3 linked regions of the Homo sapiens genome follow. The protein of the gene in region 1 purifies or fractionates together with the protein of each later gene. This does not show direct contact. Each region holds a gene or a part of one and is shown on either strand. Other genes may lie near its edges.

Region 1 (7,897 bases):
TGATTCAATCCTGTATAAAATAAGCTCATAATTTCTTAACTTATTAAAGTGTTACCTCAAACAAGAAACTAAAAATATTTTGAATAGAAATCCAAAAAGGATAGATTAAAATATATATAATCTTCAACCAAGGATTGAAAGAAAAAATAATAAATTAAAAAATATATAATCAAATGATATATAATAAATGAATAATAATGGAAAAAATCTAATTTTATCCTAAAGTTTCAACAGTGACCTCCACCAAAACCTTCTCCAAGCTCTAAGCAAATGTGAGTTTTACTTTCTTCCTCTGTCCAATTACTCTTTTGTGGAAACACCCATAAAATGTTCCATAGTCCAAATGTAGAAGATGTAACCTCAAAAAATTCTTGTGAGGATTAAATGAGTTAATATTTACTAAGTACCTAGCATGGTGCATGGCACATAGCAAATACTCAAAACATGGTATTATTATGATTGTTTGTTAATATTAATAGCAACTTTCATTTGCATAGCATTTCTTCACAATAACTTCTCAAACTACACAAAATTCTTAATAGTTTACAGAATTCACACTGACGTTCAATATTCCTGGATGTCTGTAAAATTTGAGTAAGAACACAGAAAAATCATAGTGATTCGCCCAGGGAACTAATGTGTTATCTCTGATTCTGGAAATAAAGTAAGTTTTTAGGGCAATTGTGTTTACCCTTAAGTTCAGCTAAAAAAATTAACATATGTAGCACACACATTCCTATAATTCACTAATTTAACTACATTCTTGAAATTATTGAAATTTTAAACTTGTTTTAGCTGAATTTGCAATTTTCAATGTATCCTTAACCACTTCCTTTTAACTTTCTGAGGTGTACTATTAATAAAACACCTAATAGTGTATTCTACTATCTAAAAATTGATTACAAATTTGTACTCTCTCTATATATGATTAAATACAAAAGGCTTTTTAAGTCAATATACGAGAAATTCCTAGATTTCCAAAGATTAAAAAAAATCTGCTTCGTAATAAAAAGAATACACACTCAATGAATGAGATTTATGTTCCACAAAATAACTCTAAAAGATAATCAGTAAGACGTGATGCTGATGAAGTCCCATTTCCTAAATATCCACTATGGAGACTAATGCCTCTTCTAAGTCTTCAATCAAAGAGACAAAATGTAACAGATAAAAAATAAATTGCAATCTGTAATGTATAGTGATCCACAGGGATCTAAAAAAACAAGAATCAAAAGGAAGACTCATCTTGCTTTGTTCCCAGGAAAAGGGCATGATAACTGCTTAAGTATCCACGTCTCTCATTTAAGACTTTCGAAGTTCCTTTTCTGTGATTCCATGATTACCACACAACCTCTAGTTATTAACTTGGCTTCCCAAGTTCTTGGATACAAGAAAGAGTGCACTGGATTTTCAACTTGAAAATTCTGATCCAACATAAACTGGCACTGTAATGTGTACATCATTGTCTAGGTTAGTTTGAACTGGGTTCCTCAAGTCTGGGCAATACATGACTAGAAGTCTACACATTTGAGCTTCTTAGGTTGGAACTGTGAGAACCAGACACTTTCTCATTGACAACTGCTACAATCATTTCTTGTTTTTCACCTCCCTGTCTTTAACCTGTCCCTAAAATGAAACATGCTAGCTAAACCTAATTTAGGCAGATTCATTTAAACACGAAAATGGCTCATTAAAACCAAAGTAACAGCCTAGAATTTAAACCAAAACATAGGATGTATATTTACACAGCCTCATTTACATTATAGTCTATTCCCCACCCCCACCCCCCCAAAAACAAAACAAAACAAAACTGATATTCAAATCGTACTTTAAGGCAAAAATCCAGAAATTATTTTTGCACTTGCATCAGCTGGGAGCATTATTTATAAAGCTGTTTGGCATATGTGACTCATTTATTCCAAGACTTTAAAAAGTATTTAAGAGAAATCCCACCTGGTACAGAGCAGGGTAGGAATACTTGCATTTGAAGTGCATAAATTTGGGTCTTCAAATGATAACTTAGACTTTTCGCACGAGTCATTCAAAAGTAATAGTATTATTCCTTCAAAAAAAAAAAATATCTCTTCCACACTCCAAAGCATTCAGGCTCACACTAGACACTCCAGCTCTTCCACTGTGTCCGTTTAAGTATCACTTATGAGGAGAAAATGCACACAAAATTCTCAGTTCGCCTAAAATAAATAAATGTCTACTATCATTCCTAAATCCACAAGGCAGAATTCTCTTAGAACCATGATGCCAAGAACTTCCACCGCAAGTGAAATTGTCTTCGCAATCTCTGTCTCTAGGAGACTGAAAGGCTGCAGAGACGCTTGAGGATCCTGCAGGGAGGCTAGGGCGGCAGACGGAGGGGGCGGAGGTTAGGGGAGAGTCCCACAGAGGAACTGCATTAGAAGGAAAGATTTTGATAACGTCTAAGGGAGAGGCGGTTAGCTACAGGGGGAAAAAAACAGACCTATTTCCATATTATGTACGTTGTAAAGAAAACGCAAAGTGATGAGGGTAAGGAAACGTTGCCAAAAACAAACAAACAAAAACAAAAAAAAATTAACCCTCTGCGGCCGGAGGGTTAAGAGAAGTCGACAAAAGGAGAAGGGGGAGGCGAATAAAGGCCCCAAAGACCAGGAATTGAAAAAAAATACCCGATTTGTGAGCTTGGCCGTGGTCCAGATCTTCTGTCCTGATAAGCAGATGGCAAGAGGAAAGGATCGCAGTTACTCAGGGTGGTAGAGAGTAACGCGTTTACAAGGGTGACGAGCCCTGCACAAGAAGATGTCGCCTCTCTTTCCACCTGCTCCGCTCAGTCCTTTGCCTCTTACTCTAGCACCAGTGGCATTCGGGCAAAACACTGCCAAAGCCTGCACCGCTGGAGGACAGCAAAAGGAAAATACCTGAGTCTCAGTAATCACACGGGCAGCGACAGGAGGAGGAACCGCGGACAACTGGAGCCTGGGCTGGATCCTCACTAGCTCCGGTCAAACCCTAACTCTTACGGGTGGGGCGGGCAACTTCCGCCCAGAGCAAGGAAAGCGTCACATCCGTCAAATGGCTTCACCCCTCCTCCCTTCTCCGCTGTAGCTGCGTTTACAACGTTCTGACTTCCTCTTCCAGGAGACTTTGGCCTAGTCTCAACACCTGACGTGGACTACATAACCCAGCATTCATCACGGCAAGTGGATTTCCGGGTCAAGAGGTCCGCGCTGGGTACATCACCATGGAAGCAATCGGTTTGGTCACGTGGTGCCCTTGGTTACGCCCGGTGGCAGCTGTGGGGTCTAGGGCTCAGACGGGGGCCATTTTGCCAGAGGCTGCCTCCCGGAGTTGGGGGCGGCCTGGCGGCAGGCTGAAGCTGTTCTTTTGCCTCTTCTGCAGCTTGGGGCTTGGAGAGGATCTGGAAGTCTGGGCTCCATCGAGCCCTTTGGAGACGGCAATGGTTTCTTCCAACCACCACCACCTGACAACCCTGCATGGCGGCTGCCCCCTCCGCGCTGCTTCTGCTGCCGCCCTTTCCAGTCCTCTCTACCTATCGGCTCCAGAGCCGCAGTCGTCCTTCCGCCCCAGAGACCGATGATAGTCGAGTTGGGGGCATTATGAGAGGAGAGAAAAACTACTACTTCCGTGGAGCTGCGGGGGACCACGGTTCCTGCCCCACTACAACTTCGCCTCTGGCCTCGGCCCTCTTGATGCCCTCGGAGGCAGTCTCAAGCAGCTGGTCTGAGTCTGGAGGCGGTTTGTCAGGGGGAGATGAAGAGGACACTCGGCTCCTTCAACTCCTCCGCACTGCCCGGGATCCTTCTGAGGCCTTCCAGGCTTTGCAAGCTGCTTTGCCGCGGCGGGGCGGTCGACTTGGCTTCCCCCGACGCAAGGAAGCTTTGTATCGGGCACTGGGCCGAGTGCTTGTGGAAGGAGGTAGTGATGAGAAGCGGCTCTGCTTGCAACTTCTCTCGGACGTTCTCCGGGGTCAGGGGGAGGCAGGCCAGCTTGAAGAGGCCTTTAGCTTAGCACTTTTGCCTCAACTAGTTGTCTCGTTACGGGAAGAGAATCCAGCCCTGCGGAAAGATGCGCTGCAGATCCTTCATATATGTCTGAAACGTAGTCCTGGAGAGGTGCTGAGAACGCTTATACAACAAGGACTGGAAAGTACCGATGCCCGACTTAGAGCTTCCACAGCACTACTGCTTCCCATCTTGCTTACTACTGAGGACTTGTTGCTTGGTCTGGATCTCACCGAGGTGATAATATCCCTAGCCCGAAAGCTTGGTGATCAGGAGACAGAAGAAGAATCTGAGACAGCTTTCTCCGCACTTCAACAAATTGGGGAGCGACTTGGCCAAGACAGGTTTCAATCTTACATTTCTCGTCTGCCCTCTGCCCTGAGGAGACACTACAATCGCCGCCTGGAGTCCCAGTTTGGAAGTCAGGTTCCTTATTATTTGGAACTTGAAGCCTCTGGATTTCCTGAAGATCCCCTTCCCTGTGCAGTGACTCTTTCCAACAGCAATCTTAAATTTGGGATTATTCCTCAGGAGCTGCATTCACGATTATTGGATCAGGAAGACTATAAGAACCGGACCCAGGCCGTCGAAGAACTAAAGCAGGTGCTGGGAAAATTTAACCCTAGTTCTACTCCTCATTCTAGTCTTGTTGGCTTCATTAGTTTGCTATATAATTTGTTAGACGATTCTAACTTCAAAGTGGTGCATGGCACACTTGAAGTCCTGCATTTACTGGTTATTCGCCTTGGAGAGCAGGTACAGCAGTTCTTGGGACCAGTTATAGCAGCTTCTGTCAAAGTGCTGGCGGACAACAAGTTGGTGATCAAACAAGAATACATGAAAATCTTCCTCAAGCTAATGAAGGAAGTAGGACCTCAGCAGGTGCTTTGTTTACTCCTGGAACATCTCAAACATAAGCATTCCAGAGTGAGAGAGGAGGTGGTGAACATTTGCATCTGCTCCCTGCTGACCTATCCTAGTGAGGATTTTGACTTGCCCAAACTGTCCTTTGATCTTGCCCCAGCTCTTGTAGATAGCAAACGCAGGGTACGCCAAGCAGCTTTAGAAGCTTTTGCCGTATTGGCATCATCAATGGGCTCAGGTAAAACCAGCATCCTTTTTAAAGCTGTGGATACAGTTGAACTGCAAGATAATGGAGATGGAGTGATGAATGCTGTGCAGGCCAGATTGGCTAGGAAAACCTTACCAAGGCTCACAGAGCAGGGATTTGTGGAATATGCAGTACTGATGCCATCTTCTGCCGGGGGTAGGTCAAACCATTTGGCACATGGAGCAGATACGGACTGGCTTTTGGCTGGTAACAGAACTCAGAGTGCACACTGTCACTGTGGTGACCACGTGAGGGATAGCATGCACATTTATGGATCTTACAGCCCAACTATCTGTACCCGAAGGGTATTAAGTGCAGGAAAAGGAAAAAATAAATTACCATGGGAAAATGAGCAACCTGGAATCATGGGAGAAAACCAGACCTCCACTTCCAAGGATATAGAGCAGGTATGCTTCTCTAATTTTCTTGAGTCGAAAGTGTGAAGAATTTAAATGAAAATATGCCCGTGATGACTTAAGGGTCAGCCTGCTTGAGGGAAACATGTTATGCTTTGTTTTAAATTGATTTTAAATCCATCTGAATGTTGGTACTCATTATAATGGTACAGATCACAAAGGACCATTTAATAGGCTTCCTGCTTGATAGATTTAATTAAATTTGAGACACATGTGATATAGACAATACCAAGATTCAGTTTTAGTTACTGTAGCATGTCAGTTTATCTCATTCATACAACAAACATTGAATACCTAGTACGTGCCAGATAAAGAGCTAAATTCTGGGAATGAAGATGAGGCCAGTTTCACACAGTATAGGAAAAAGGTCAGACCTGGGAATTAGCAGTTAACAAATTCGTTAAGTGCTAAAGTAGAAATATAAAGAGTCCTGCAGGAATACTGAAGACAGAAAAACTAATTCCACTAGAAAAGTAAAAAAAAAAAAAAAAAAAAAAGGAAAAAGAAAAAGCCTCCACAGAAGATACAACATTTGAACTGAGATTTTCCCCCCAAAGCTTTTATTTAAAAAATTCCAAATCTATAGGTAAGAGTACAATGAATACCCATATACTTCATCTATATTTACCAGTTGTAACATCTTGACATATTTCCTCCATATTTGCTGAACCATTTGAAAGTAAATTGTGGATATCTTGAGATTTCACTCCTAAATATCTCGGCATATATCTCCTAAGAATGACATTCTTCTTTTATAACCATAAATCATTATTGCACCTAAGACTATCAGTAGTAATTCAATAATATGTAACAGACAGCCTGTATTTAAATTTCCCAAATTGTCTCCAAAAGTGTTTTATATTTCTTGTTTTACTTTTATCATCCAGGATCTAGTCAGGGTTCATGTGGTTAATGTCCCTTGTAATTTTATCTAGAATAATATCCTACTTGTTTGTTTCTTTGTTTTTTCATGGCATTGGCCTTTTATAAAAAGAGTTTGGGGTAGTTTTGTAGAATGTCCCAAGTTTTACATTTATATGTTTACTTGATTAGATTCAAAATAAATATTTTTAGGAAAATATTACATAGGAGATACATATATATTAAGTAGAAGATAAGTAGTGTGAACTTCACAGTACATTACATTATGAGGCAAATGATATCAGGCTGTCCCATCACTGGTGATGCTTAATTTTACTGTTTGGATAAGGTGGTAATAGCCAGATCTCTCCATTGTAAAGGTATATTTTCCTCTTTAGAATTAGCATATAATCAGTACAGTGATACTTTGAGACCCTAAGAATACCCCGACAACTTTTCACCCACTGTGTTTAGCATCCACCAATGGTCTTTACCTGTATCATTTATTACACTGGGGGCTTACAAATAGTAATTTTTTTTTTTTTTTTTTTTTTTGAGATGGAGTCTCGCCCTGTTGCCCAGGCTGGAGCGCAATGGCGCAATCTCAGCTCACTGCAACCTCTGTCTCCCAGGGTCAAACGATTCTCCCACCTCAGTGTCCTGAGTAGCTGAGATTACAGGCTCCCACCACCACGCCCAGCTAATTTTTGTATTTTTAGTAGAGACAGGGTTTCACCATGTTGGCCAGGCCTGTCTCAAACTCCTGACCCACCCGCCTCGGCATCCCAAAGTGCTGGGATTACAGGCGTGAGCCACCATACCCAGCCCAAATTGTAATTTTTAAATTACAAAGGCCAGGCAGGGTGGCTCACACCTGTAATGCCAGCACTTTGGGAGGCTGAGGCAGGCAGATAACCTGAGGTCAGGAGTTGGAGACCAGCCTGGCCAACATGGTGAAACCCCCGTCTCTACTAAAAATACAAAAATTAGCTGGGTGTGGTGGCACACACCTGTAATCTCAGCTACTCGGGAGGCTGAGGCAAAAGAATCACTTGAACCCAGGAAGCAGAGGTTGCAGTGAGCTGAGATCACACCACTGTACCCCAGCCTAGGCAACAGAGCAAGACTGCATCTCAAAAATAATAATAATACTAAAATAAATTAATTACAAAAAGAGTAATTTTAAAAAATTGTGACATTTCTTCTCTGTTTACTACCTGCAATTCTTTTTTTCTTGTATGTGTAATAATTACATATTATTTTTTGTTACTAAATTTTTTTTAACTTTTTCATGATAAAATTGTCCCAAATTTAACTAGTGGCTGGCTCCTGTGTCCTTTTAACATGACTGTTCTTTAGTCTTTGATTATTTCCTTAACATAACATTTGGACGATTGCTTGAGGCCAGGAGTTCGAGACCAGCCTGGGCAACATAGTGAGATCCCCATCTCTACAAAAATAAAAAAACTTAGCCAGGCATGGTGGTGCAGGCC
Region 2 (7,084 bases), on another chromosome or scaffold:
TGTCAAATGAGCTTTTGTGGATAAAAGAACAGGTTCCAGCCAGGTGCAGTAGCTCATGTCTGTAATCCCAGCACTTTGGGAGGCTGAGGCGGGTGATCACCTGAGGTCAGGAGTTCAAGACCAGCCTGGCCAACACGGTGAAACCCCATTTCTACTACTAAAAATACAAAAATTCTCTAGGCATGGTGGTACATGCCTGTAAACCCAGCTACTCGGGAGGCTGAGGCAGGAGAATCACTTGAACCTGGGAGGAGGAGGTGCAGTGAGCCAAGATTGCGCCACTGCACTCCAGCCTGGACAACAGAATGAGACTCCATCTCAAAAATAAAAAATAAAAAAATAAAAAAAAGAACAGGTTCCCAGGATTCACCCTGATCTACCCAACCAAAATATCCAGGAATATGTGCTTTTAAAAGTTCCTTGGCCAGGCGCAGTGGCTCACACCTGTAATCCTAGCACTTTAGGAGGCCGAGGCAGGCAGAACACAAGGTCAGGAGTTTGAGACCAGTCTCGCCAACATGATGAAACCCCATCTCTACTAAAAATACAAAAATCAGCCGGGCGTGGTGGCGCACACCTGCAGTCCCAGCTACTCGAGAGGCTGAGGCAGGAGAATTGCTTGAACCCAGGAGGCGGAGGTTGCAGTGAGCTGAGATCATGCCACTGCACTCCAGCCTGGGCGACAGAGTGAGACTCCATCTCCAGGAAAAAAAAAAAAAAAAAAAGAAAGAAAAAAGTTCCTTAAGCGATGCTGATGGTTGAGAACCACTTCCAGAAAACATGACACCTCTCTTAAGCATCTGCTGGAGACTGTTGTCCCCTTGGTTTCTGTGAAACTTATTGCTCTCCACCAAGATTATTCCCCAAGGCCTGTTCTTCACCTTTGGCTCTTCTCTCTCCCTCGGACCACTCCAGTTGCTCTAGCTCCCAAAAGATCTAGTCCAGTAATTCCAATAGCCTATGGGCAGGGACTCCTACCTGCAACTTCAAGTTCAACCTGTCTAAAACTGAACTTTTTCCCCTAAACCCAGGTGACAGTTCAGTTAACGCATTATCACTATTCCAGTCACCCAAGTTGAAACCTTGGATCATCTTTGACCCATCCCTCCCCTTCCTCCATCCCTGCTCCCCATCTCCACTACTTCATTAGACTGGTCACCAAATCCTAACCTATGGAAGTGTCTTGTAAGAGGTGTTACCAGGTAAATGAGTTACCAGGTTAATGAGTGCTCTGTCAGTTCATCTGTGAAACAAAGACCAACCTCTCAGGTTATATTAAGGGTTAAATAAGATAACGACCCCAGAATATAAAACATCTGATACTATACATATTACTCAGTATATACTCCTTTCTCCTCCACATCTTTCTGCAAACTACAATCAATCTAGACAAAAGTGTTCTCATCCTACTATGGAATGGTTAAACAACAGAACAGGAAGATTTGGAATCCACAAAATGAAATTTTTAGTTTCAGCTCTACGGTGAACTGGCTGTGTGTTCTTGGTCAAATCACTTAACCTTGCTGAATTGGTACGTAAACTTGAAACTTATCTGTTTCACAGAGACACTGAAGATCAAATGGCAAGACTTCATTAACCTGCCATAAGATCCTGCTAAAGGCCACCTCCAACAGCTCTCTCATCACTAAGATGGCACTTATGCCACTGACAAGGACGAGGAATAGCCTTAAGTTCTGAAATTGAATCCTAATGGAACCCCATTCCTCGTTTGGCCCTATTACCCTGGTAGCTACCAAGACATTCAAAGCTTTGGCTTCTGCTGAGGAAAGTAACATCTTACCAACCTGCAGCATGCATTAAGACTTCAGGAGGAAACATCTGAAGCATTTTATAAACTGTAACATCTAGAGAACTGAGGGAGGTATCATCAGCATTTCTATCTTCTTGGGTTTCTACAAATAGGCTTAATACTTGGCTGAATAGTTTCTTTTAATCTCATCAGAAGTCCCACCTCTCTTATAAAAACTTCACTTCTCAACCATCATTTCTATTTCCTTTCTTTACAATGGGCTCCATCAAATAATTGCCCTTAAAAAGTTTTCTATTACTTTCTGGGTTTTCTCTCTTTAACTGTGTCACAAGGAGAGAGAAACCATTACTTAAACACCCGTATCACCCTCACCTGCGGCAACTAAGAGTGTAAACTACATTCAGCAAAAGGTTGCTTACCACTACATTCAAAAGTGCCCAGTCAACTTCACTGAATGAGTATTGACAGCGTTTCCAACATACAATAAACTTAACCTGGAGGGTACGGAATTAAGCTCAAATAGAAATTTTAATAAGCACTACATTGACAGTCTTTGACCTGGGAAGTCACATTTCAAACAAGCGACCACACCCATTGATCAACACAATGCCTCCGTCATCCCCGCCAGCTCAAGTCTTTGGTAGTTCTGGGGCATGCACGTTTCTGTTGCTGTAAATGTCCTTCCTTCTGTCTGGCCTGCATGGATTTCGCTCCCTGACTAGCGGCCCCCAGCACCGTGAGGGGTACGCGCTGGCGGGTGCTGAGTAGGGCTCTTAACAGTCGGCTTACTACTTCTGAAACCTCAGGACGTCCGGAGCGAACACCTCAGCGGAATAAGCTGACATCCAATCCGCGCTTCAAATTACTGAAGCCATTCTCACAAGCTCAACCCCAGGACACCAGGAAAAGGAGGAAACAGGCTGGGAGAGCTTGGAGGAGCGGGCGCCAGGAGTCAGGGCAGGCCGGGGGCGGCGGCTCCCCAGACCGCAGGCCCGCCCGCCTCACCTGCAGCACCAAGGCCTGCGCGGCCCCGGGCGGGAAGCCCATGCGGTCCGATGGGTGGCGCAGCAAGCGATAGAAGTCTGTCTTGCGGTAGAGGAAGCCAAAGAGAACGCGCAGGAAATCCTGGACGTTGCCCACGTGCTGCAGGATGCCCAAAAGGGCCTGGTCATACAGCTCGGCCGCCCCTGTCTCCATGTCGCCTCCCGCCCTAGGTACGCTTCACACACACAGCGCCGCCTCAGACCTGCCGACTGGCCACTTCCGGCGTCCGCAGCCAACGGCTCCGCCGGACGGCGCGGCTGCGGAACTTCCGGTCCGTGCTCGTTCGGCCCCCGCGGCCCCGGGCTGTTTTCCCCAGACCCAGCTGCCCCACGGGCTTTGCCTTGAGGTGGTCTTAGACAAAAGAGCCCGACAAGGGCAGCAAGGAGGTTCCTACGCGGAAGGAAGCCCGTGGCTTCTGCTGCGCTGCGAGGGCTTGACCGCCATGTTTGAAGCGGGCGGAAAAAAATTATGGGGCGTGCAGTGTCACGTGACTGCTCGGATTTTTGTCACGTTGTCTGTGGATCCTTTCTTATTTCTGTGTTGAATTCCAGCCTGGGTATTTGGAACCTATGGTTAAAGATGGGGCTAGGGTAAGCTTTTTGTTAGTGAGCCAGAGACGGGAAAATGCGTATATGTGGGATGTATGGGTTTCTTATTAACAGATCTGTGAGTTAAACTCAGGGCGTTGCATCAGAAGAAAGTCAAGATGACGAAGAAAATAAAGAGTGCATTCAACGTATATTAAGTGGAAAGAGCTAGATTCAGAATAGAGAATCCGTATGCCATCGTTGTGAAATATGTACGTGTATGTGTGTGTATAGTATGTATATACATATATACGTCATATATACATATGTTGTTAGTGTCTGTCAAAGTATAATCTTAAAAAAGTAAAAAGCATGACACTCATACAAATATATCATGAACACATATCCAAGATTTCTTCAGCAAATTAACAATGATATGGTAAAGCTGGTTCAAAAGCATTTTGAGGAAGTGGAGATTAAACATTTTGACAAAGCATTAGAGTAAGATTAGGTTGGATACAAAGCTGGCTGGTGTTCTACAAGATGATAAAACCATAGATTATCATTTCTAGTGTATAGAAATGATTTGCACCTCTTCTAGATTAAAACATGCAAGTTAACATGTCTTCATAGTGTATAAGCTTTAATGAATTGTAAATAAAATCCAACTCAGGTAAATTGCCCTAGAACAGTGGTTCTGAAACTCTTGATTTAGGGACCATTAATCCTCTTAAAATTTGTTGAACATTCCAAAGAACATTTGTTGATATGGGTTATGCTTATCAATATTTACCACATTAGAAATTAAAACATAAAATGTTTAAATATTTATTTAATCATTTTTAAATGACCATAAAACACATTACATGTTAACATACTTTTATGCAAAAAATAATGTTCTTCAAAGCAATAAAAGTTCAGTGAGAGGAGTAACATAGTTTTACATTTTTGCAAATCTCTTTAATGAGCCTACTAGAAGACAGCAAGATTTGGCCGGCACAGTAGCTCATGCTTGTAATCCCAGCACTTTGGGAGGCCGAGGCGGGAGGATCAGGAGTTCGAGACCAGCCTGGCCAACACAGTGAAACCCTGTCTCTACTAAAAATACGAAAATTAGCTAGGCGTGATGGCAGGTGCCTGTAATCCCAGCTCCTCTGGAGGCTGAGGCAGGAGAATCGCTTGAACCCGGGAGGCAGAGGTTGCAGTGAGCCGAGATCACACCACTGCATTCCAGCCTGGGCGACAGAGCTAGACTCCGTCTCCACAAAAAAAAAGAAGACCACAAGATTCTCACATCTGCATTCACTGCAACATAATTTGCATTATGTTGTTTTCATTGAAGTATATGAAAACATGCAACCTCACACAGACAGTTGCAAATGAGAGGAATATTTTGTCTTTTCAAATAAATGTGGCTATTTGTCTTTAAAATGACATCAAAATTCTTCTACAAGCGATAGTTTCTATTTTTTTTATTTTTAAGAGGCAGGGTCTCCCTCTGTCACCCAGGCTGGAATGTAACGATGTGATCATAACTAACTGTAGCCTTGAACTCTTGAACTCAAGCAATCCTCCTGCCTCAGCCTTCTGAGTAGCTGGAACTACAAGCACATGCCACTGTGCCTGGCTAATTTTTAAATTATTTTTATAGAGACGAGGTTGGGCCTACATTGTTCAGGCTGGTCTGAAACTCATGGGCTCAAGCGATCCTCCCCTCTCAGCCTCCCAAAGTGCTGGAATTATAGGTGTGAGCCACTGCACCCAGCCCTGTAACTGGTAGTTTCTTAAAGGTTACTTGCCATATGGAATCTAAAACTGTATCTATAGACTTTTCATACTCTGTTACATTAATATCGATTGGTCTTTCACTTTGAATGGATCGTTAATAAATGCATGATTTTATACCATCATGTATTAATTAGTCATTTGAAAATGTTGGTCCACTGTGTTATGCAGCTCTTCCAAATGTTCACTCGTTTTATGCAACGAGCATATCTTGCCCCCAGATCTTGGTTTCTAATATCATTTCATTATATAATATCAAAAAATAACATTTGTTAGAATTACCACTAAACTCATCAGAGAAGTCTGTCTTTATTGACAAGCACTCAAGCTCATGGAAGCGGGATATGGGTTTTTTGAATTCTAATTTTAGCTTAAAAACTTGAACTTTATTATTGGAAGTAGATACAATCAATTATTTTCCTTGAAGAGACAGGCTCACTTCATTCTGTCATTCAAGTAAAAATGATGCTCTGTGACTTGTTCAATTGGCAACTCAATCACACAAGTGCTTTGCATCAGTGCAACCATTTTGCTTCAGTATGAGGCAGACATGTCTTATGTGTACTTCTCTTTTAATCATGCACTATTAAAAAGACTTGTTCTCAAGTGGAGAACTTTTAATAAAACAACTTTTAATAAAATTAATAATTAAATGCTATCAGGAGCATTCTTAAGTGAAACTGAACATTTTTAACCTGTAAGTGTAAGGCAGTGCATACTAGTCGAGTTTGGTGCCGTTATGGACTGAATGTGCCTGCCCCCCACCAGATTCATATGTTGAAGCCCCAGTCCTCAATGGGACTATATTTGGAGTCACATTGGTGGTTAGAAGGGCCTTTAAAAGATACTTAAAGGTTAAATGAGGTTATAAGGGTGGGACCTTAACCCAATGGAACTGGTATCCTCATAAGAGGAGAAGGAGACACTAGAGATCTCACTCTGCACACATGCAGAAGAAAGGCCATGTGAGGACACAGTGAGATTGCTTCAAGCTAGGAAGAGAATTCTCACCAGATACCAACACCTTGGTCTTGGATTTCTGGCCTCCAAGACTGTGAGAGAATAAACATGTGTTGTTTAAGCCACCCAGTCTATGGTACTTTGTGACAGCAGGAAGCTAGGACAATGGCCTGCCTTGATTCCTGCTGAGACACTTGCAGTTTTACCTGCCATTGCTTTTGCACCATCATTGCAAATGTCAACATGGTAAAAAAGCAAATAACATCATAGTATTGTTATTTTTACCTTGGAGGCCCCCCAGGGCCACATACTACACTCTGAGAATCACTGCCCTAGAGAATTAATGAATCTCGGGTGAGCCTGTTATATAATTCCTCAGTATAACTGGAAGCACATGCAGTCATCTTCTTGCTATATTCAAAGTTTTGAATAATTTTCTTTAGCACCTAAAGGAAGAAATGGAACAGACGCTGCATCTGGAGAAGGGAAATTGAGGGAAACACTATAAAACAGGAGAAAAACTTACTTTTGTATTTGATACCATATACATGCATTACCTATTCAAAAAGTAAATAAAATATCTTTTTTTTTTTTTTGAAACAGAGTCTCGCTCTGTCGCCCAGGCTGGGGTGTAGTGGCACAGTCTCAGCTCGGCTCACTGCAAGCTCCGCCTCCTGGGTTCACGCCATTCTCCCGCCTCAGCCTCCCGAGTAGCTGGGACTACAGGTGCCCGCCACCACACCCGGCTAATTTTTTGAATTTTTAGTAGAGACGGGGTTTCACCATTCACAGGATGGTCTCGATCTCCTGACCTTGTGATCCACCCGCCTCAGCCTCCCAAAGTGCTGGGATTACAGGCGTGAGCCACCGTGCCCGGCCAAAATATCTTTTAAATTGAATGGAAAGCTAAACATAATGTCATAACACAGTCCAGCAATCATGCTCTTATGTATTTACCCAGCTTATTTGAAAACTATGTCCATACAGAAATCTACAT
Region 3 (6,636 bases), on another chromosome or scaffold:
GTGGGGTGTTGACACCGAAGGAGGCTGGGCAAAGAGGGTATACGGGAGCTCTGTATTTTCTGCTCAATTTTGCTGTGCATCTAAATAAAAGTGCTCTAAAAATGGTCTATTTAAAAGGAAAAAAATTCTTAAGACAAAGTCAGATCCATTAGTAATTAAAAAAAAAAAAACCCAGCAGCTTTTAAGTTATCTTGTGTACATGGTTTAACAGAGGTATGGTCTTATTATGGAAAGAGTGTTCAAACCAGGCCAGAAGAATTTCATAGCCATGTTCATATTCAAGGCAACCATAATATTCTACTTTGCAAAAACAGGTTGGGCAACCAGCCTTTTAAGTCACTATGTCTGCATTTGGGGTATCTATAAGTAGGTAGAATCTAGTGTCCAATTGGAAATATTTCTAACTTCTCTTGTTCTCAAAACCATGATCTAGCACTTCAGTCCTCTTATGTGGTCTTCTGTCATAGCAGTCCCACTCAGTACAGAGCAGTTAATGAGATATTATAGAATGAAAACCAAGACCAGGTATTTCTTAAATTTATTGAAGAACTCTTAGCTGGGAGAAGAAAGATCACAGGCTTAAACAATTGTAAGATAAAAGAACAATTAATTGCAAATAATTACAAAAGTAATTTCTGAAATTTTTTGAGCCACTGCTGAAACAAAACTTTAGTGCATCTCAAAGTTCGTATTTTGTTAAGTGAACATATTAAATTACTGAAAAGCAAAAAAGAGTTACTGTTACACAGTACAAGATCTTAATATAGTAACTGAGCACAGCCAAATAAACAGCTATAATTATTCCAAGCTGCTTTTGCTATGTATCTGGTATATTAAACAAGAAAGTGGATTACTTTTAACACTGCACAAGTAACCAAAGGTAGCAAATCCAGCAATATTAAAACCGGATATTAAATAGTATTCAAACATTACAACAAAAACAAAATAAGAACTTCTAGAACTAGAACTCTACCCTATGAAAGGAATGTACACAGATGGTTAAAAAAAAACCAATAAATAAATAAAGTGACAAGAGTGACTAATTCTGTATCCACATCTTCAGAGCAGGAATACAGTAAATGAGTAAATGCTTAGAGGAGTCTTGCTGAAAATGAGAAAAAATGCATCTCACTTTAGTATAATTTTTCTAAATTCTCACTGAAGCTCTAATTCTCTTGTGCTGGTGACAGGTGGACAGGGTTTTTAAATGCAAAGTATTCTCCCTACACCCTGAGTATGGATGCATCAGTTGTTTAAAATTCTGTGGAAAGTTTCCTTAGAAAAACATAAAATTTAAAGTGATATACTGATGGGAAATTGAATATATTAATTGTGGAAGAATATCAGCTAACTAATTAACTAAGTAGACATTTAAATCTGGACTCTGTTGAAGAATCAAGGTTAAACTCTGCATTATGTGCACTAATGTCAGCCATCTAATATCAAAGTCAGATAAGTAAACTATCTTTCACTTTATACATAGTGCATTTAGTAAATAAATTCTCTTACCAGCAACATAAAGCCCTTGTTGGAGCAAAATTAAAGTATTAAGAATTGAATTAACTTACAACAAATATCTGAAGGGTAAGTGGAACATTTTTCAAAGTATAAAGATGTTATCACATATATTCACCATGAATCCTCTTAAAGGTTTTATAACACCATTAAATTATATCAAATATCCAACAGATATTGTCATTTTCTTCTGTGATTTATAAAGGAAACATTCCTTTTGTACAAATCAGAAGTATCTTAAAAATCAACCTTAACACCAAAATATACATGTAATTTTAACTTGGTTTAGGAAAACATGAAAGAACTGTCACATTTTGGTGTGAACAAGGTTCTGAAAACCCCCTATCAGAGGTCTCATTCACTTTTTTCCACATATCACTTGAAGGTTTTGAAACTGGTAAAAACAGAATTCAGCTCGATGTACATCAAAACTTTAACAGTTCTGAAAAAGACGTATTTCGTAAGGGCCAAAATGTACAGCACAGCAATATTACAATGTTACAGTATAAATATGTCAAGCCAATTTGTAATAAAATAAGACAGTTGTCTTCAAAAGAGCTGTTTGACTATAGAGCAACCAAATAGATCTAGAACATCTTTGGAAAAACCACAAAGTGCCTTTACAGAAAGTTAAGTTTAGACTACACTTAATTAAAAGATAATACTCTAAACTCAAAATTATTTTCTCTATATGAGGAATTTTGACACTTGTTTTCACACCTGCCAATATTCAATATTTTTAACTCACACTTCTTTTCATACATCTGCCAATATTTAATATTTTATTCTATGCCCCTGCACTGAATTGATGTAAGTGTGAAGTTCCACTATTATTATTACCACACATGCTAATACCTAATAACTGGTCTGTCATTATGTAGTGGTTAAATAAGCAAATGCTGAACTCAGCACAGCTCTAGCAAAATGCAAAGGAAATAAGAAAAGCCTCACCTCAGAATGATTACACCATAAACAGAAATAAACATTTTCAAACACAAAGTTTCACAAAATAATATATCATCACTTTAAAAGAAATTCAGAACTCTATTTTGCTGTTGATCAAACTTGTGCATACACTCAAGTTACTAAACACAATTTGATAGTTAGATACTTGTAAAAATGCATTCTAAACTTAATAATCAATTAATTCATAATTAACAAGAGCAAACATTCCTAGTCCTAACATTTAAAAAAACCCAGTCCAGTGCTGCCACATCTCAAGTTCTGAAAAGCTAAAGGCAGGAACAATTCTGGTTATACAATTCCTGCATTTCTCCACCTTAAAAAATACTTGAAGAAACTTTAGGAAACTTTATATTAAGGCTTGCTGTATTTCTGTATCTTAAATTGAGAAAAATCAAAACCTACGATGTAACCTCGAATTATTTAAATAGCTTTTGGCATTTTTCTTGAAAAGCAAATTTGAATCTTTCACTATAAAACATTTCTATACCACAATTACTAATTCACATTAATGTGTAAGTGCCCTCATTTCCTATTCCCTGGCAGGCGCTATGTCTTCTTTCTACGTTTTGTGCAGCTTTCAGAACAGTCAGTGCTCAGAAAAAATGAAAACGTAATGGAGCAAAATCAAAGTCCCCAAAAAAAGTGATTTATCCTAGATTACAAAATCCAGTAGTGGAAGAACCAACATTTACACACCCAAATACACACACACCCACACATACACAGGACACAGCGAGAGATGAGAGAGAGTGGGGGGTGGGGGAGGTGAGAGACAGTGGGAGGAGGGGGGAGGGGGAAGAGAGTGGGAGGAGGGGAGAGAGAGTTGCAGGGAGGGAAGAGAGAGACAAAAGCAAGACACAACCTTTGTCCTCTATTCATGTCAACTTGCAGTTTCTGGACACAAACTAGTAGGAAATGTAGAGCCCAGAAAGATCGTGTCAGAGAACTTGACGAGACAGTGTAGATATAGTTTATCTGGGTGGGGCGGGGTGGGGGGAAATCCCAATTTTTCTAAAACAAACAAACAAACAAACAAAAAAAACACCACATTCTTGGTAGAGGTTTTTTCAAAAATCCAACAATAAAAACTACTGGGCTTCTCTAAATGCATTTCCATATTAACATTAATTTTTAAAATTTCAACATGTTTTACAATTTAAGTTTTCACTTGTAAGATAAGTTGGGAACCCAAAATTGTCAAAAAAAATTTTAATTATTGTCAATAAAAATTCTTACTGCACAATCTTTATAGGCGTTTTATTTTAAAGCACCTTTTTAAATTTTAACAGTGGGTTTCTAAAAAGAAAACAGTAAAATAAAAGAGGGAACAAACTGGCAAGGTTAAAGTACTCCCTTACACACACACACACACACACACACACACACACACACACACACACCTTTCATGCCAGAATGACTGGCAGCATTGGCAAATAATGTCAATGAAAGGATGGGGGAAACTATCACTTATAGTGTTTATAGAAACCTAAAATACTAATGTTTCTGCTAAGAAATTAAATAGTTTGGGGAAATCAAAAAGCTACCAATAGCTGATCTATGAAATATGAAAATGAAACTGATTTTTAAAAACAGGAAAGGCCAAAAATCTACTAGAAATTTTTAAAAATCAGCCTCAATTTTATTTTCTGATGTCAGACTAGTTATTAATTAGATACCATTTGTTTGCAAAGGAGCAAAATTATAACTCTATCACTGGAACCTATCCTCAGCCACTTCAGTGCAGTTTCTAGCAGCACTATTTGGATACAAAAAGAATGTGGTCAGACAATGCCCCTGAAAACCCCCTGGTTAGACCTTCCTTCAAATACATGTTCTTAGGGTCTTGACACACTACACATGTGTATAGAAGAATAAATGAAGGTAGTATTTTGACAGATTACAAAAGTATGAACTATATACACCGAGTGATAACACAAAGCGCTCAGAAAGCTATATTTACTTGCCTCCCAACTGACTTACGATGTTAATATTCACTATTCAAATTTTATCCTAAACATCTTTATTGGCTTGTTCCCCTCCCCAAACAAATACTAAAATATACTGGTTTGGGGTTTGCTCTATGCATTTTCCAAGAGCCAATCAAACAGCGACTTGCATCTCTCCTCACTGGAAGCTTTTTCCATCACTTCATAGTATTGAAGCACAGCCTGCAGGAGGTCTCCCACTTTCCATCCTTTCTCTTGTAATTGTTTTGAAAGCTAAGAAAGAAAGATGTGTCAAACATTAACCAAAAACAATTTTATAACAAAGCTTTTATTTTTATTTTCAATATTAGCTGAAACTTAAGAATCCTGCTGTTTACAATTAAATACCGTTTCCTAGTTATAACAAGGTCTTCCCCTCTAAACCGCTACCCCTTTACCCAAATTAAACATTTTCCCTTCTTCCCCTTTATAAACACATCTCCTCCAGAGAATGACACTTTGGGATCGCTGGAGACAGAGCTCCACAAACCTCACCAAGCAAATAGTCTGCATGGACATGCAGAGGCTGAGTTTCTACAGGAAATTCTTCACCTAACTAAATACAACTGCCACACCCTCAATTAGGACATAAAATAATAAAGACAACGTCAAACTCAATAAAAGGATGTGGATTTTCCTTCCACAACATATAGTGTGGCATTTTTCTGGAATACACACTCTAGCCTCAATGGAAACATGGCTTTCTAAGTTAAAGAATGTTAATGTTTCAACAACAAAACAACAAATAAATAAATAAATAAATACAGGTTTAAATAAATCCTGTTGTCACCACTCACGACATGCTTTTGTTCATTTCTTTTTCTACTAAGTTCTGTAAAAGCTCTTAAGTTTTGAAAGATCTGTAAGTTAAATTCTGAAAAACTACTTTAATTTTGTGTAACATATATATGCTTAACCTTTTTAAAAACAGCTTTATTGAGATAAAACTCACATAACATACAATTCACCCAAAGTGTCCTAGTCAATGGTTTTTAGTATGTTCTCCAAGTTGAATGCAACCAACACCACAATTCGAATATTTCTACCACCCCAAAAGGAAAGTTCTGATAAAGAAAATTATGGAACAAAAACCTTAAGACTGTAAACTGAAAATCTTGACTAATAAGGTACTTGGCACATAGTAAGCATCTTGTTTAAACTTTTATCGGCTTTTAATTATGACAGCTGCTCATACAAATGAAACTGGATTATCAGAGAAACAGATATATTAATCATTAGGTACAATTACAAATCAATTAAATACAGAGAATAATTCAATTTTTTCATAGGAACACACACAATGCTTATTAATAGCATCTACCTTTGAGAGCTTAGTGTTATGCCAGGCATTAGACCAAGCATTTTTTTTAACATTATATTTAATCCTCATAAACCCCTGTAAGGTAGATTCTATATTCATTTGCATAGTGCAGTTAGGGGCAATGAGACAGACTGGTGAACCTGCCTCTGGTTATACTGCTAGAAAGTGGCAGAGCTGATGTCTGAACCCAAACTGTTGGACACTACAGCCTAAGAATTTAACCATCACCAGGCATCTTGTTAGACCAATCACATGACAAGAACATCATATACTGTTAAATGTATCCTCACACTCTGTAAGGTAGGTACTTACTAGCATAAACTCCTTATTTGCAGAGTCATGAAAATAAAGTTCTGCAACTTCAGCCTCAGAGGCAATGAGCCACTGAAGAATAATCCTTAGCTGGGGGTCTACCGTGCATGGCTCCATGTCAATATTCGTAATTAGCAGTGTCTTTCCATCTTGCCCCAAACCTAATATTTAAATGTAAACAATATAAAGTAAAACTCATCAATTTAACTCTCAATACTCTGGTTGTCAAGTAGATACAAATATTTTCTGGTTCTTAGGATTCTAATGAATGGTGAAAAAAATATCCATCTTTTTCTAACCACACCATAACCTCAACTAAAACTTCTAAAGGGCAAAATAATGTAAAACAAAGGAATAACTTTGATCATTTATTGATTGCAAAAATATAAAACATCATTTTAACATACTGAATTCAAGTTCTATAAATGCCATAATTTGATATAAATTATGACCAGTGGGTTAGAGAGAAAATAAAACTATAAAGCTATCATTACAATAAAAATAAAAATGAGGCTGGGCATGGTGGCTCAGGCCTGT

What was found.
Region 2: the proteins of KLHL28 (region 1) and NUDCD3 purify together in Homo sapiens (affinity purification with mass spectrometry; 2 studies listed by BioGRID and IntAct, with this or other methods). This does not show direct contact.
Region 3: the proteins of KLHL28 (region 1) and AKAP11 purify together in Homo sapiens (affinity purification with mass spectrometry; 2 studies listed by BioGRID and IntAct, with this or other methods). This does not show direct contact.

What each region holds. Positions count from the first base shown.
Region 1 is NC_000014.9:44,958,934-44,966,830, forward strand, and holds the start of KLHL28 (kelch-like protein 28), read right to left. Parts: upstream 3,015-7,897; 5' UTR 2,913-3,014; exon of another isoform or gene 2,664-2,912; intron 2,553-2,663; exon of another isoform or gene 1,996-2,552; coding exon of another isoform or gene 1,954-1,995; intron 1-1,953. Other genes in the region: TOGARAM1 (TOG array regulator of axonemal microtubules protein 1), read left to right, coding at 3,489-5,534.
Region 2 is NC_000007.14:44,487,633-44,494,716, forward strand, and holds the start of NUDCD3 (nudC domain-containing protein 3), read right to left. Parts: upstream 3,027-7,084; 5' UTR 2,969-3,026; coding exon 2,777-2,968; intron 1-2,776.
Region 3 is NC_000013.11:42,317,152-42,323,787, reverse strand, and holds the end of AKAP11 (A-kinase anchor protein 11), read right to left. Parts: intron 6,261-6,636; coding exon 6,100-6,260; intron 4,701-6,099; coding exon 4,560-4,700; 3' UTR 527-4,559; downstream 1-526. UniProt on the Homo sapiens protein: Binds to type II regulatory subunits of protein kinase A and anchors/targets them.